2 separate regions of the Homo sapiens genome follow, and region 2 is linked to region 1. Evidence: fine-mapped expression QTL. Tissue or cell type: blood mononuclear cells. Region 1 holds a variant in brackets; the other region holds the start of a gene. All regions are shown on one strand. Distances are from middle to middle.

Evidence for each region. PIP is the estimated chance that this variant, and not a neighbour inherited with it, causes the effect.
Region 2: ZFHX3 starts here. The variant in region 1 is fine-mapped to the expression of ZFHX3 in blood mononuclear cells (TOPMed, PIP 0.95).

What each region holds. Positions count from the first base shown.
Region 1 is chr16:73,121,813-73,127,037 of GRCh38, reverse strand. It overlaps a transcript of ZFHX3 not described here. Among named protein-coding and RNA genes, the nearest start is that of HCCAT5, 32 kb to the right of the region's middle. RefSeq lists enhancers at 2,437-2,936, 3,804-4,013. The variant A/C (reference allele first, on the strand shown) is at 2,115.
Region 2 is chr16:73,045,051-73,050,275 of GRCh38, reverse strand. ZFHX3 (zinc finger homeobox 3) reads left to right here and starts at 2,148. Exons shown (of 10, transcript NM_006885.4): 1 at 2,148-2,524. It overlaps LOC124903719 (a long non-coding RNA gene), which reads right to left and starts at 2,698. Exons shown (of 2, transcript XR_007065116.1): 1 at 2,476-2,698; 2 at 1-150. RefSeq lists enhancers at 1,247-1,782, 2,319-2,854, 5,218-5,225 and a silencer at 1,708-2,557.

The DNA.
Region 1 (5,225 bases):
CACGCACTGCATGCTTGAGATCCTAGGAGACCTTTCTTCCTCTCCCGTTTTCTTTTTCTTTCCCTTGTATTTTGTAAGTGCCACTTATAAACAAGATACCAGGACTCAGGACGTTGAAAATGCCACTTCAGAAAATGTGTCGGCCATCCATCCCTCTGTCCTTTTAATGAGATGCATCCGGGACTGCAGGAAACCAAGACTGCTGCGGAGGCAGGATTGTCGCTGGGCAACCAAGCATCCTTCCAGCTGCCCCAGAAAGAATCTCACAATGTCCTGCAATCCCTGGTCTTCTCACCACCTCAGGGGGCGGTCCTTGAATCCACCCCCATCCTTGTTCCAGGCTCACAAGTGAAATTTACCAGGAGCTGATATTGCAAAATAGATTGCTATTTCGCAACTGACTGCAGTGTGTGGGAGTGGTACAACTTATTAACATGTGCACTGCAACCAAAGAACACACAAGACTGGCTGACGTACACTTTTTTTCCAACGTGTACCCTAAGTGTGGCTGAATGATACATCTAATACTATCATTCACCTATCACGTGGCTCCCAAACCTCCCATCTGTTTCTGTTTCTTCAGTCCCCGCTTGACACATCCAGTACTTCAGTCCCCAAGTCCTGTTGTGCTTCCCCTAGCAGCGCAATGCCCTTGTCTCTTCCCTCCATCTAGGCTGCTATCATCCTCATTCAAGCCCTCATCACCTAGTGCTTGGACCTCTGCAGTATCCTCTCGCTGATTGCCTGGCTTCCAGTTGCTCCCTGCTTTGTTAGTTTGGCCTTGCACACGGATAAATTTCCTGGTGCCCCGCTGTGATTGCCTTTCTCTTCTCTGAAGTCCTCAGTGGCTTCCCAGAGCCTCCCAGAATGGAGGACAAATTCCTCCACCCATCATTCTGGTCCTTGGCTCTCTCCCCATTCTCTGTCTTTCCCCATTCTCTAGCACAAACCCCATACTAGTCCCTGTGGATGACTCACTGCTTCCTCTCTGTGCATTTTTCAGCTATGTGCCTAAGAAACAAATGCTGTGTCCCACACCCTCTTTGAAATTGGTTCAAATCCTGGCTCCATTTCTTATTACTGTATGACCTTGACTGAGTTATCTAACTTCTCTTTGCCTCAATTTCTCATCTGTGAAGTGGGATAATAATGGTACGGTATTAGGGTTCTCTAGAGGGACAGAACTAATGGAATAGATATGTGTGTGTGTGTATATATATGCATATATATATACATATATACACACATATATATATATGGGAGTTTATTAAGTATTAACTCACACGATCACAGCTTCCCACAATAGGCCATCTACAGGCTGAGGAGCAAGGAGAGCCAGTCCAAGTTCCAAAACTGAAGAATTTGGAGTCCAGTGTTCGAAGGCAGGAAGCATCCAGTACAGGAGAAAGATGTACGCTGGGAGGCTAGGGAGTCTCTCTCTTCACATTTTTCTGCCTGCTTATATTCTAGCTGCACTGGCAGCTGATTAGATGGTGCCCACCCAGGTTAAGGGTGGGTCTGCCTTTCCCAGCCCATTGACTCAAATGTGAATCTCCTTCTGCAACACCCTCACAGACACACCCAGGATCAATATTTTATATCCTTCAATCCAATCAAATTGACATTCAGTATTAACCATCACAGTACCTACCCCATAAAGTGGCTATGAAGATTAAATAAATTAATGTATGTACGACATCCAGAATGGTACCTGCACATAGTAGGTTCCATGTCAATGTTTGCTCTATTATTTTCTTCATCTCTCCAAGCCACAACTCAAAGCAGACCTCCTCCATGAGTATTCTGCAGGTCACCCTAGCAAAAAAAAAAAAAAAAAAACAGCTCAATTCCTCTTCTGCCACCCACAGCTCTTGGTTTCTTCCGATAATATAATAATATTACAGCAAACAGTGACTGGGTGCTAGGTACATGATCAGGGCTTTCCTATGCATTATTGCTTTTAAATCCATGGGCTGGATACCTTCCATTTGCCCCAGATCTACTCTCTCACCTTCTCCACCTTGCTTTTTGCCACAGGAGGCTGATTTGAAGCCCAGTGGCTTCCAGTTGGGTTTGGCCAATGAGGATCACTGGCAAAAATAGGCAAGAGGAAG[A/C]AGTTAGATCAGAGTTTGTATTCTCCCAGCCCCCTCCCAGCCATGTCACTGCAGAACAGACTCATTTCTCAACACAAGGTTATGGGTCCTGTTAAGCAACCCTCTTGACCCCACCTGCTCTGTCCCCAGCTTCTCGTCACCATGCCCTGTCCTTGCTTCCCACCTGGGTGCTATCACAACCCCAGTGCGCTACACTCTCTCTTGTGTTTCCCTGAACCCTGACCACATCTTTGTAGATGTAATAGTCCCTTTATAAACTCTCCTCAAGTTATCCTAATACAGATGTGTGACCCTGGCCGACACAGTTCTCATTACAACCCTGCAAAGCATGTACTGTCACTGTTACCGTTGCTATCAAACGTGTCCAGGATTATATCTAAGTGGTGGGACTGAACCTGCCTGGCTCCAAAGCCCGCACTCTGAATCGCTCTAGGGTATGGTCTGAATGTTGAAACCTAATCCTCAATGTGATGATATCAGGAGGTGGGGACTTTGGGAAGTGATTAGGTCATAGGGGTGGAGCTCTCATGAATGAATGGAATTAGTGATCTTATAAAAGAGACCCAGAGAGCTAGCTTGCTCCTTCCACCACATGAAGGCACAGCAAGGAGACATCATCTATGAACCAGAACGCAGGCCCTCACCGGACAGCAGATCTGCCGTCCCCAGTGCCTTGATCTTGAACTTCCCAGCCTCCAGAACTGGGACAAATATATTTCTGCTGCTTAAAAGCTACCCAGTTTATGGTATTTTGTTACGGCAGCCGGAACAGGCCAAAACACACTATTATAATAGCTCTCCTATACAAGGTTGTAAAGTGGTTATTTCTACATGGATTTTCCCACCTGTGACTCAAACTGTATTAGTTGGTTGGTTGGTTGGTTTTGCCATCTGTCTTAGTCCATCTGTACTGCTATAACAAAACACCACAGACTGGGTAACTTATAAACAATAGAAATGTATTTCTCACAGTTTTAGAGCCTGAGAAGTCCAAGATCAATGTACTGGCAAATTTGGTATCTCATGAAGTCCCATTCCTCATAAATGGCATCTTCTTACTGGGTCTTCATATTGCAGAAGGGGCAAACAAGCTCCCCCAGGCCTCTTCTATAAGGGCATGAGTCCCATTCAGGAGGGCTCTACCCTCATAACCTAATCACTTCCCAAAGACTCTACCTCTTAATGCCCCTAAATTGGGGATTAGGTTTCAACATATTAATTTCCAGGTGACTCAAACATTGAGACCATAGCACCATATTTTTAAAATATCCAAAACTTAGAGACTTAAAACAACAATTGTTAATTAGCTCACCATCCTGGAGGCTGGCAGTTTGGGTTGGGCTTAGCTTGGAAGTTCTTCTGTTGAGTTCACCTGAACTTGTGTATGTGGCTACAGTCAGGTGAGGACTGTCTGAGGCCTGGTGGTCCCAGATGGTATCACTTATGTGCCTGGAACCTGGGAGGGATCCACAAGGGTGACCAGGCTATGTGTCTCCAGGATCTAGTAAGCCAGTCTAGACTTCTTCACATGATGGCTGGATTCCAAAAATAGCAAAAGAGAGCAAACCCCTCTGTGCAAGTGCTTGTCAAGCTTCTGCTTGCATTAGGTGTCCTGATGTCCCGTGAGTAGTATAACCCAGATTCAAGGGCTGGTGAAACTGACTCCACGTCTTGGTGGGAGGAGCTGCAAAATACTGTAGCCATTTTTTTTTTTTTTAATCTACCACATGGGACACTCCTTTCCGGAAAGATCTATGCCTTTGACAACTTCACATCCTGTATCCTCATAACCCAAGTCAGAAAAGCAATGTGGGGGCTGGCCCTGTGTTTTAGAGGGTGGGGAGTGTCCTCTTTATAGCTTGGTGAACATCTGACACTCTTCCTGCCTGTTACCACCAGACTGAAAATAATTCTGAAAGGGCAGTCTCTTAAAACGTAGCATGAGGGAGTGGAATTTTTTTTAATTAGGCTAGAGCAGAATTTTTAAAAGAATCTTTTCTTTTCTTCAGTTGCCTCTCCCTTGTTATACATTTTAACTCCACCCAGCGGCCGACCACATCCAGCCTGGGCTCTCCTTCTCGCTCCTCCACACCACTGTTTGCTTGGCAGCAGTGCTCAGCTCCCAGGGCCACGGAAAGCCGAAGGAGAAGTCTTGCTTCCTGCTCTCCTCACTTCGTGTTTTCTTTCCTCTGCTCCTTCTGGGGCTCACCCTTAACTGCTGACTCCTGCTCTGTGCCCATCTGGTGCCCCACTAGGAACAGGATGCTAGGAAGGGCTGGACAGTTTGTCTACAGGGAATCCCCTGATGGCCCCCCAAGTTGGTCACTGCACCCCGTGGTGGCCTAGAGACACAGCCAAAAGACTTGACCTCCAGGAAGCCGCAAGACAGAAAACAAATCCTAAAATTAGTTATATGTGGCCAGGCACAGTGGCTCACACCTGTAATCCCAGCATTTTGAGAGGCCAAGGCAGGCAGACCACTTGAGGTCCGGGTTTCGAGACCAGCCTGGCCAACATGATGAAACCCTGTCTCTACTAAAAAAAAAAAAAATACAAAAATTAGCCTGGCATGCACCTGTAGTTCCAGCTATTCAGGAGGCTGAAGCATGAGAATCGCTTGAACCCGGGAAGTGGAGGTTGCAGTGAGCCGAGATTGCGTCACTGCACTCCAGCCTGGGCTACAGAGTGAGACTCCATCTTAAAAAAAAAAGAGCAGTTGTATGTGAAATTATATTTAAAGATACTTGTGAATTTGATGTGGCTATCCATTAATTAATTTCACAAGTATGGATAGGGTACCTACCATGTGCCAGGCCCTGGAAATATAAAATATGGTTCCTGCCCCTGAGAAACTTATAGTCTTAGTGGGGAGAGAGACACACGAAGACAATATGAATTAATATTCATGAATAATAATATTCATGAAGAGAATATAATTAATATGAATAGGTTGGAGCAAAAGTAATTGCAGTTTTCACCTTCAAAAGTAATGGTGAAAACCACAATTATGGCTGGGTGCGGTGGCTCATGCCTGTAATCCCAACACTTTCGGAGGCCGAGGCAGGTGGATCACGAGGTCAGGAGATACAGACCATCCGGACTAACATGGTG
Region 2 (5,225 bases), 77 kb after region 1:
TCCCGTCCGGGCCTTCTGCCCAGGCAGTGCTGCATCCTCCCAGGTTACTTTAATAGCTTGTTCTTTGGGCTTTCTAGCTTTTATTTTATTGAAGGTATTTGTCTGTGGGCCTACCAGGATCATGATGTCACCAGATTACGAGGTTGTCCCCTGTTAATAAAAATGAAGATAAAGCAGCAAAATTAGATTTTCTGAGAGTATCAACATTTTCTTGTTGTCTTTAATTTATCCAGCAGGCCTTACCTATCCCAGGTAAGGAATCTTCGTTTTTCCGGAGAGATTGCCAGAGGCATCTCTGCGTTGTGGGCCACGTTGCTTGCGGTCCTGCTAGCATACGTCATCTTCATGTCTTATTCATAGTCACTTTTTCAATTAAATTATTAATTGTTTTCTTTAAGGTGTTCTCAACTTATATGGCCAATATAAATAACAGTGTGTTTTGAAAACACCACCTGTTCTTGGGCCTGAAGTCAGGTGGTCTGGAAGCAGCTCTGCAGTGACCATAGTCTGGTTTGCAAACTCATCCTCCACCTTCCCTGTTGGCTCTTAACTCCCCCCACCCGGCCCCCGTGCTCTCACGTGTGACTGAATTGGGCTTGTGCCCTCCTTTGTCCCTAATCGGACATGATTCCCTGGAGGCAGTCTTTTCTCCCAGGGCCTTAGCTGAAATAAATAAATAAATAAATAAATTTCCCCAGAATCTATTCTGGACTAAAATGTAGAAAGGGGCTGTCTGTACCCAACAGGTTAGATACTTACATTAATCTGAACCCAACTTACATTGTGCAAAAAGCCTTCTATACGGGGATGTGATGGTTTTCACCAGCTAAGCATCCCTTTTTCTCCCGAGTCAGTGTGTGCCTCATGCTAATACAATTCCATACATACTGCTCTTCGCCTCATGAGCTGATTATATTTCTAACACTTGCATGGTTCATTATTGTGCCCGAGGAAAAGACTCTCCAGGCTGTAAGGCCAGCCTGGGTGGGTGGTTTTCAGAAAGGGTAAAAGCAGGTGCCTTTCTGTGCTGTGAGAATCGGGAGTAAATTCAGACTGAGGGTGGGATTCTGACAGGGAGGACAGAGGACTTCCGGTGAGATTTCTTTGGGGCTGGCTTTCAGATGAGAATGGAAAAAGGTGGACTTGGGGAGATAGAAGGCGCCCAGCAATCGCTTTGACCAACTGGAAAAGGTGAACTTGGGGAGATAGAAAGGCGCCCAGCAATCACTTTGACCAACTGGGGTGGCCGCTTTAAATCTTACCCTGGCGGTAGGAACTCCCTGGGAAAGGGCACGATCTTTGCTATCTCTGCGGTGATGTGGCTTTATAAGGTGAGGCTAAGGAGCCTGGAGGCTTACATGGTAGACTGCATCTCCTTTTCTTCCCACTTCTTTTCTTCCTATCTTTCTAGTGATCTCTCCTTTTCTCTTTCTCTGGCCTCAAAAACTATCCTTAAACTCTCAACGGAGAGCAGGGGGATGTTTTTATAAGTTTCTGCAACTGAAAAACAGAAGTGCTCTGTAAAGCAGTTAATAGGATGGGTGTGTGTTTCCAATAAATTCCTGTCCACATTGGCTCCTGTCCCCATGCTTGAGTGGCCTGGCTGTGACGTGGACGGGGCCCAGGGAGCGATGGCTCCGGTTCGGAGGCCTCAGGCTCCTTTTAGTGGCCGAGGGCGCGTCCCTTTCTTCTCGCCCGATTCTAGGCCGGCCCCTGACCTTTGATGAGCGAGGGGTCAGCGCCTCCGGGAGGGCCTGGGCTTTGTTCCCGCCGGGGCCGGTTCCCGGGGCGGCGCAGGCCGAGCGGCGAGGGTTCCTGGCCCCAGGCGGGTGCGCGGGACCCCCGGCCTGCCCCAAGGCCCGCGCCCCAAGCGGAGCGAGCGCAGCTGAGCGCCCGGGTCCCGCGCGTCCCTGTGCGTCCCCGGGTCCCTGCGGGCGGGCGGGCGCGGTCGCCGCCGAGCAACCCGGCCTGCGCCCGGCACGACTGTAGATGTCAGGCTTTGCCCGGGGAGCCGAGCGGCAGCGGGGCTGTGAGTTTCAAATTAACCTTCCGCTTTGTTGCTGTGTAATGTGGATCCCCGAAGGCCCCCCGCCCCGCCCGCCCCCCTTCCCCGGGCGGTGCGCGCTGCAAACTGCGAGTTGGGCTTCATTTACATAAAGCGATTCCGGGCGGGCGGCGGCAGAGGAGGAGGCGGCGGCGGCGGGCAGGCCGGGGACCCGGACGCCAGCGCCGCGCCCCGTGGGTGAATCCCCGCCGCGTCCCGGGGACCTCCCTCCGGGGACGGGCCGACCGCCAGCCCTGCCGCCACCATGAGCTCCCCTCCCCTGTCTCCGGGCCCCCTGCTCCTGACCAGAGCCACCTCCGAGTCCTGGGGCCAGCGGGAGGTGGGGAGCATGCCGCCTGGGGTGGGTGAGCTCGGGGCTCGGGTGCCACTGGAATTTCCCGTTGTTGCGCATGGCGGCGCGGCCCCCGGACCTGCAAGTGCCGCCTCCCTCCGGAGGTGCGCGGAGGCTTGGTGTGCCAGGTGAGTGCAGCCTCCCTCCGGGTCCGCGCAGCCGGCCTGGAGCCGCGGGCAGGTGCTGCGAGTCTTGGCTGAACTTCCCATTCTCTTGGGGCGTGTGGGGGAAGGGCAGGCTGGATGCACTTGAACTCCCAGACTCCAGTTGCCACCTACCTAGGGTGAGAGCGCCTAAATTCTGCTGGGCACACAGTAAAGCTCTTCCTTCCTCCTTCCTTCCCTTCCCTCTGTCCTCCCCTCCCTCCTCCTTTCCTGAGTCTGCTTTTGGATTAGTTCCTGCCTTCTGAATACTTGTGGTACTGGTGTCATTTAGAAGTTTGGGTGCCTCCGCCTAAAAATGCACCCTTTTCAGCCCTGGAGAAGTCGCTGGTCAGTTCGAAACAATGTGAAGAATGCGCTTGTGGAGTAATTAAAGGGAGAATCAGAGTTTTGGAGCTGGAGGGCACCTTTGGAGATCATCTTGTCCACCCTCTAATTTTAGTTTTTTCGCACTCTTGGAAAAGTCAGAGCATTTATTTCCTTGGGCAGGGGCGGGGTGGGGAGCTGATGCAAAGGAGAGAGTCAAGATTTTTATCCTGTTAGGAGGAGGAATGCCTATGTTTAGGTCAGTAGCAGAAAAACAATAACAACAAAAAGAAGCATTGTAGGCTTGGAGGGAAACGAACCTTCTGGAAAATGTTCTTTTCTGCCTTGGACACACCTGTGTTATGATAGGAAAAGGCCTGGAGGGCAAAGACTGCAGCTCACGCATGGTGTGTGCTAAGAGGGAATTGCGTGGCACAGTGGTACCTCCTGTGTTAAACTGGCTTAAGTGAAAGCCGTGAGCAGGTGAATCCAGGAGGGTCATCCCTCCCCCCACCCTCTGTGTCATTTAACAGTCCTTGAAGACTCCCTAAAGCCACTGACAGAAAACCCCAGAGAGAACAGATGGCTCTGCCTGGGCACAGAAGGAAGGCCTCTCCTTCATACTGGGTCCTGCTTGTCAGAATGCACCAGGGCAAAGCCTTGAAGGTAGATTGTGAGAAAGTTACACATCATCTTATTTCTCTCTATGCTTTGAGATCCTTGGAGACAAGTCACTAAATAAATAGTGTATAATTTAAAGCTCACCCTAGCTGGGGAAACTCTGTTTCCTTGCCGTCAAGCAGCAGGTGCGAGTTTGTAGAGTTGGCCCCTCGAGTTCCCTCATTCCTGAATTCAGGAGGTGTCAAATCTTCACGTTCAGTTAATGGCTGTGGTTTCTGGATAGGTTTCAAGGGAAACCCTGAAAATCACGAGTTCCAGGAGGCTGGGCTGGAGGAGGACACGAGAGTGCTGTGGTGGGGACTGCATTGGGTAGGAAAACATACACCTTCCAAGGTAACCTGATCAAGAAAGGCCGTAGCAAGAAACATGAGTCTGCTCCTTGTTATCAGAACAGCCACTGGCAGCCTGAGATTCTGAATCCCTCTTGCTACTCAAACATGAAAAACAATGAAGGCAAAAGTGAGGTGTGAGGGAAGTCAGGAGACCACGGTTCCAAATAATTGAAGGGTTTCAAGAATGGGGTCTTCACAGAGAGGTACATACCTGGATGTTTGCACGCCTGTATTTGTGTTCATTCTGTTTTGCAGAGACCCTGCAGGCACCCTTTCAGAGAGTGTGTAGCTATGATGGCCAAAAGAAACTTTTTCTCTCTCCCTTTGCTAAATTACAGGACTAAGGAGTTCTCCTCATGGTGTTTCCAGCATAGTTTTCAGAAAGCATGTAAAGTGCCTCTCAGAGTGGGCTGGGGTCACAGTTGGCTCTTTTATTTAATTACACAAGTGTTATTTAACAACATGGAGCAGATGCAGAAGCGAGCACTTTTAGACTTTAAAAACAGCCCTTTCAGAATCACAAGGAATTAAGTGACTTGGAGACCTTCTGTCTTTATGACATGGGTCACTTCCCTCTCTCAACAACCCCCCCCCACTTTTTTTTTTTTTTTTGAAATGGCTGTACTTTCTATGAAATAGAGCTACTGTTTTCCATTTCTCCTGAAAACAGTGTTGATGAACAGGGAACTATTGAGAAACACTTGCTAACTATTCAATAATAATAATAATAATAATAATAATAATAATAATAATAATAATGTAAATCCATGCTGCTTCCCCAACCACCTGAAACTTAATTTTGGTTCCTTTTCTTCCATTTTTTGTTTGCACAAATGAATGTTAAGGGAGGGTTGGAAAGGCCCATCTAAAACGGTGCCCTCCACAGGCCCCTGCCTGGCTCTTCCCACCAGGACAGTGAAGTGCCTGCCTTCTTGCTGCTTTGAGGTTGAATTTAACTGCTGTGTCAACTCAGTGCCAATTGGACAGCCCAGTGGCAAGGAGCTAAAATAAGCGAGATTTAGTTTTCATCATTATGACTTTAAATGATGCTTGCTAGACACTCCCAGGACCGGCCTGGCTCATCTTTGGTGACCCAAAAGTGGTTAGTTCATTAGAATAAATCTGTGATTACAGACTGCTGGAAAAGTATTTCTAGGGCTAGTGGTGATGTGGCTTAGTTCTAGCATCCAGGAAACATGTCCTTATTGTCACTGTGTGCAGTTGTTCCTTTTTGGTGTATCTTTCAGGGGTAGGAGCTTTTTTTCTTCCACCTACAAAGTATCAGTAAGAATCTGGAAATGCTTCAGGGCTCAGAGCAGACCCTTACTTAAGAAATTATTTTTATTGCA